2 separate regions of the Homo sapiens genome follow, and region 1 is linked to region 2. Evidence: fine-mapped expression QTL. A gene starts in region 2. The other region holds a variant in brackets. All regions are shown on one strand. Distances are from middle to middle. Region 1 has its middle 37 kb from the start of NSG1. Region 2 holds the start of NSG1 (neuronal vesicle trafficking associated 1).

Region 1 (2,752 bases), 37 kb after region 2:
TTAAGAAGGAACTCCTGTGGCCCAAGAGAAACATATTAAGCCACCGTGGTATGTTAAAGTCATACAGGAAGCTTTGTCAAATAAGAAATGGTGTTTAAATTTGTTTGAGTTATATTTGTATAGATACGTTATGAATGTGTGTTCTCAAGTTATGAGATTCCTAACATTCTGATACGTCTATGTTGTCACACATAATTATAGTTATTATGTTAAATTATTGTATGCCACAGAAATAATCAAATTTCCTTGTTAATTACATCTTTAACTATAGCTACCCGAAGTCTTTTGCCATTCATAGACAATTATTGCTCTATTTTGATTCTTCTCAAAAAGTGATTTACAACTGGCTGCAGTTCAAATTTGCTTTTTCTTCAAAGAGATTCATGGAAAAGGACCCTGGCCCTGTACTCTTTTTTTTTTTTGAGACGGAGTCTTGCTCTTTCGCCCAGGCTGGAGTGCAGTGGCCTGATCTCAGCTCACTGCAAGCTCCGCCTCCTGGGTTCACGCCATTCTCCTGCCACAGCCTCCCGAGTAGCTGGAACTACAGGCGCCCGCCACCACGCCCGGCTAATTTTTTCTATTTTTAGTAGAGACGGGGTTTCACCGTGTTAGCTAGGATGGTCTCGATCTCCTGACCTCGTGATCCGCCCGCCTCGGCCTCCCAAAGTGCTGGGATTACAAGTGTGAGCCACCGCGCCCGGCCGGCCCTGTACTCTTGAATACAGGTTTTTGATAACTTCAAAGATCGTATCATTGGACCAAGTAAAAACATTCAGAACTCTAATAAACTAATGCATTCATGAAGATTGCTAACCCAACATCAAGCAAGACAAGAATTAATTACATGGGACTGAACTGATAGAGGACTGAAATGACTTTTATGATTTTTTGCCCAAAACATTGCTGATTCTTTTTATATTTTGATTTCCACAGTCAAGAAAACTTTTCTCTTTTGAACTATTTGTAGCTTATAGAAACTGGATAAAATATACCTTTGTAAACAAAATGGAAACATTTGCCTTTATCTCTACCTGATTTCCCCAAAACTTGGAAAATCTTCATGAGTATTCGTATTTTATGGCAATCAAGTTATTTGCATTAGTTCAGTAAGAATCTGTTTTCTGTCACAGGATACAATTTAAGACAATTTTTTTTTCAAATCAAGATTCTGACTGGAATGACGTATTTTCAGATATGATAACACTGCTTTGAGGAATTGAAATGGACTTTATAGAGCTGATAAAAAGCCTCTTGGCAAAACTGGCCTGCTATCTTGTCTACATAGTTCCCTTTCAAGGTTT[C/T]TAATCTTGCAGTAAATAAAGAATGTGTCTTTCTGATATGCCCAGGAACCAAAAGATATTTTGGGGACCTTGGGAAGAGAGAAATTCACCCAATTTGTACAAGTATTACAGGTGCAGTCTAGCGGTGAATCCTTGGTTTGATGTCCTAGCCTTGAGACTTTTAAAAGTCTAATCTGAAATTCCTTCTGAACGTTCCAGCAAAGTCAACTTAAAAGGGTCTATATGGCCAATCACTATTCTTGCTGCACTTTATGCAAATAATCAGGCCAAGTATAATACTAAACTTTGGTAAAAATAGGGACTGGAGAAAAAAGTTAGGCTCCTGAAGAAAGCTATAGAACACCTGTTATTAGATTCCAGCCCCCGACCATTGTTTTTGAGTTCTTTTATTATTTTCCTACAATTTGAACTGAATCCCCAATGGAATAGGCTTTGTTACTATGTATCTCTCAGGGTTTTGCTTCTTCCAAGAAAACCAGAAAATGATATTCTGAAGAGTGGAGATGATTCAACAAGCAACAACAGCATTTATATAAATCAGTGGCTTGAATGAGGACTACCCAGGAATGAGACTTCCCAGCACTGAGGGATGAAGGACATCTATCACTGCCACCTGCACAGAGACTGATCATCAATGCTGCCATGGGAATAATTTTGATCAACAGGGGGGATATGAGAAAAGAAAAATAGCTCAGAGCAGGCTGAGAACTGAGAGATCTGCAGACCCACAGAGACATGGGTATGGAATTCCAGTCATTCCCTGGCCCCCTGTAGCCGGTGCCTACACCTGGGGACAATTGTTTAAAGTTATTTTGTTCCTACCGGTTGGGCGTGGTGGCTCACGCCTGTAATCCCAGTGAGAGGTGAAGCCAGCTGGGCTTCTGGGTTGGGTGGGGACTTGGAGAACTTTTCTGTCTAACTAAAGGATTGTAAACACACCAATCAGCGCTCTGTGTCTAGCTAAAGGTTTGTAAACGCACCAATCAGCGCTCAGTAAAAACGCACCAATCAGCACTCTGTAAAAACGCACCAATCAGCACTCTGTGTCTAGCTAAAGGTTTGTAAACGCACCAATCAGCACTCTGTAAAAACGACCAATCAGCACTCTGTAAAATGGACTAATCAGCAGGATGTGGTCAGGGCCAAATAAGGGAATAAACGCTGGCCACCTGAGCCAGCAGCTGCAAACCGTTGGGGTCCCCTTGCAGGATGTGGAAGCTTTGATCTTTGGCTCTTCACAATAAATCTTGCTGCTGCTCACTCTTTGGGTCCCCACTAGCTTTATTGTAACACTCACTGTGAAGGTCTGTGGCTTCACTCCTGAAGTCAGCGAGACCACAAACCCATCGGGAGGAACAAACAACTCTGGACGCGCCACCTTTAAGAGTTGTAACACTCACTGCTAAGGTCTGCAGCTTCACTCCTGAAGTTAGCGAGACCACGAACCCACT
Region 2 (3,012 bases):
AGATTCTTTAAATTCAGCAGAAAACACTTTGGGGAAAGGTTGATGAATGGTTTTTCCCAGTGACACCAATACTGAGCGAGCCCGGGCACTTATTTGGAGATTTCACAAAAGGAACAAAGAGGAAGGAGACCCTGTGTGAGCGCGCACACCCTCCTGCACCTAGCGCCAGCCTGGCAGGGGCAGGCAGAAAGGGCGAGAACAATTCAGCCCTGGGGAGGGGCCATCTGACCAAGGAGAACGCTCCCCCGCCTCGGTGGGGCAAGTCGGGCTGAACTGCCACACCCGGGAAGGTACAGGGGCAGCCTCGCCCGCCCCTAGGCTCACCCCCGATCCAGAGCCCCTGGGGCCACGGGGCAAGGGAGGAGCAGGGCAGCTGCGGGGCCAGGGCCCTCTCGGATGAGGCTCCCAGGAAAAACGCGAAGGAATCTTGCCCCACCGCGTTCCACTGTCAGGACGAGAATATCATCTAAGGCAGGGCTCCCCTCCCCCGCCCAGCATCCCGCGATCCAGAATCCCGCGCGGGTACACTGTCCTCGCCGCGCTCCCTCCGGCCTCCCGAGCCCGCCCCCACTTCGCGTACCCAGCGCACGCGGCGCGTTTCTTTTGTTGCGCCCGCCGTGCGAGATTTGGGGGTGCACACCCGGCAACGTGGAGGGGCGTGGGGGGGCTTACCTTATCCGGGGGCGGGAACTGCAGCTGATTGACATCGAGGGGCGTCATCAGGGGAATGGTGTCGAAGCCATCCTCCAGCAGCGGCTGCTTGGTGCCCTTCTCTGCGAAATTGTTCCCCAACTTCACCATCGTTCCGGGAGCTCCGAGGCTGCAGCCTGCGGCGGGAGGGCCGGGGGGAGTCACCACAAGCAAGACCCGGGGCGGGGCGGGGGGGAAGTGGGCACCCACACCCACCGGCGTCCCGGCGTCCGCGAGCTCCCCGGCCCCGCTTCGTCTCGGGGAGGGCTCGTGGGGACGCGGTGGTCACGGCCCGATGCGGGGGTCGGGTGGTGCTGTGTATTTCTAGACCCTCATCTCGCAGGACCCAAGCGCCGGGCGCAAGGGCGCACCGCGGCCAGGGAAGGGGGCGCCGCCCCTGCCCAGCACCTCCAGACCCGGTCCCCGGTCCTGGGGCCGCCGCACCCGGGCGACCCGCTGTTCACAGCCCCGTCCCGCGTACTCCGGGAGATGGGCATCCCCCGGGCACTGCTCCTGGGCGGGCAAGGTCTGGCCTCGGCAAGCCCAGGCGCGGCCGGCCGCACTCACCCACGCCCGGCTCCGGCAGGTCAGCTGAGCGCTCCGAGCTCCGCGTCTCCTGCTCCTGCTCGCAGCAATGGCGGAGGCGGCGCCGCGCGCGGACCCGGGAAGGGGAGCGAACGATTGGGCTCCACGGCCGCTCCCTCCTCCTCGCGCCGCCGCCTCCCTTCCTGCCTCTCCCGGGGGCTGGGTGCGCGCGGGTGGGTGCGCGCGTGTGGCCGCGCCTCCACCTTGACGCAGCGCCCGCCCGGCCGCACAAAGGAGTGCGGGGCTGGGCGGGAGCCTCCCCTGGGACCACGCGCCCGCCCTGAGCCGGGGGAGGGAACAGGGGAGCGGGAGAGGACGCGCCCCCAGGGGGTCTCGGAGCGGCGGAGGGCGCCCGGAGCGGGAGGGCTGCGGGCTGCGCCACCCCGGGCGGCGGCCTGGGCGCGAGGCGCTTAGAAAGGAGAAAGGGGAGGCGGGGACCGTAGGGACAGAGCGACCCCCAGGGGTGCGGGGAGGTGCAGAGAGGGTCCCCGCCCGCAGCGCGCCGCGCTCACCTGGGGGTCCTGAGGACGTTCAAGGGTTTGGGGGGATGGGTCCAGGAGGCGCTGGGTGGTGGCGGAGACCAGAGCAGGGTGCTCCTTAGTGCTGGGTTGGGGAGGGGGCGACCAAAAGAGGGCGCGTCCGCGTATAAAGGGGGCGCGGCCCGTAAAGGAGGCGCGGCCCGTAAAGGAGGAGGAGGTTTTCGGTGGTGCGGGAGGCGGAGTAGCGCTCTCCCAGGGCTGGGGTGTGGGCGCCCAGGGTGAGGCTGCCCCAGGCAGCGGGAGGGAAGTCGTTCTAGGCAAAGAGCGCTCAGTGCGCCGCTTGGAGGGAGGCGGAAAGGTTCCTCCGCTCTGGTTGGCAGAGAAGGTGGAGGTCCCACTGCAGCCGCCGCCCGAGCATCCTGGGCACAGAGGAGGGGCCGCTGGGACGATGCCCGGACGCGGAGAGAAGGGGGGTGGTTCTAGCCCGACCTGCGCCCCCAAACCCCGAGCTCAGCCGCTGTCGCGGCTTCCCAGAGAGGGTCCTGTTTGCAGACCTCCAACCCGTCCTGCCTGCAGGACTCACGGATGAAAGACTATGGGGTGTGGGGGCGAGGCCGAAATGGGAGTGGAGCCCGCGCGGGAGGAGGCCGGCTGCGGGGATCGGTGCCTCCTGGGCACCTGGGCCAGGAGCTGGGCCCTGTCAGGCGCTGGACGAGGAGGAGGCATCACCCAAATTCGATACTTTTTCACACCCTTTCCGGGGACTTCCCCGCGGCACTACGGAGGGTCCGGGGCGTTTTCCATCAGCCGTCTGAGAATCCTGGGAATAAGCCCAGAGCACAGGAGCAGCCACCGCCTTGAGCCCCAGGCACAGCCTGGGAACTTGCCGCGGGTGCCCTGATTTCAAAATCCCCAGGAGGGCTAGCCGTCTTTGACAGGTGACCTAGTGGGTATCTCGTAACTCGCCCCAACTCTCCAGCCAGGGTCTAAGTGTGCCTTTGACCACAGGCCAGCCTGGTCTGAACCCAGGCTCCTGGCAGAGGCACCCCGCCCCCAACCCAGGGAAAGCGGGTGTCAGACTCTGGCCCCTGCCACGGGCCTCGGGGACCCACAGAACCCACCTTTTTGGCACTTTGATGCCTCCCTGAAGCAGGTGAAGAAGAGAAGATTTCTCTTGCTCCACTTCAGAAATCTGCCCAGGCATCTGCCATGAGAGTGACCCACTGGTCAGGAGAAACCCTTTGGGCTTAAGCAAGGA

What was found. PIP is the estimated chance that this variant, and not a neighbour inherited with it, causes the effect.
Region 1: its variant is fine-mapped to the expression of NSG1 in whole blood (INTERVAL, PIP above 0.99).

The regions. Positions count from the first base shown.
Region 1 is chr4:4,348,553-4,351,304 of GRCh38, reverse strand. No RefSeq gene overlaps it. Among named protein-coding and RNA genes, the nearest start is that of NSG1, 37 kb to the left of the region's middle. The variant C/T (reference allele first, on the strand shown) is at 1,302.
Region 2 is chr4:4,385,419-4,388,430 of GRCh38, reverse strand. It overlaps NSG1 (neuronal vesicle trafficking associated 1), which reads right to left and starts at 1,329. Exons shown (of 5, transcript NM_014392.5): 1 at 1,258-1,329; 2 at 673-827. The coding sequence starts at 801.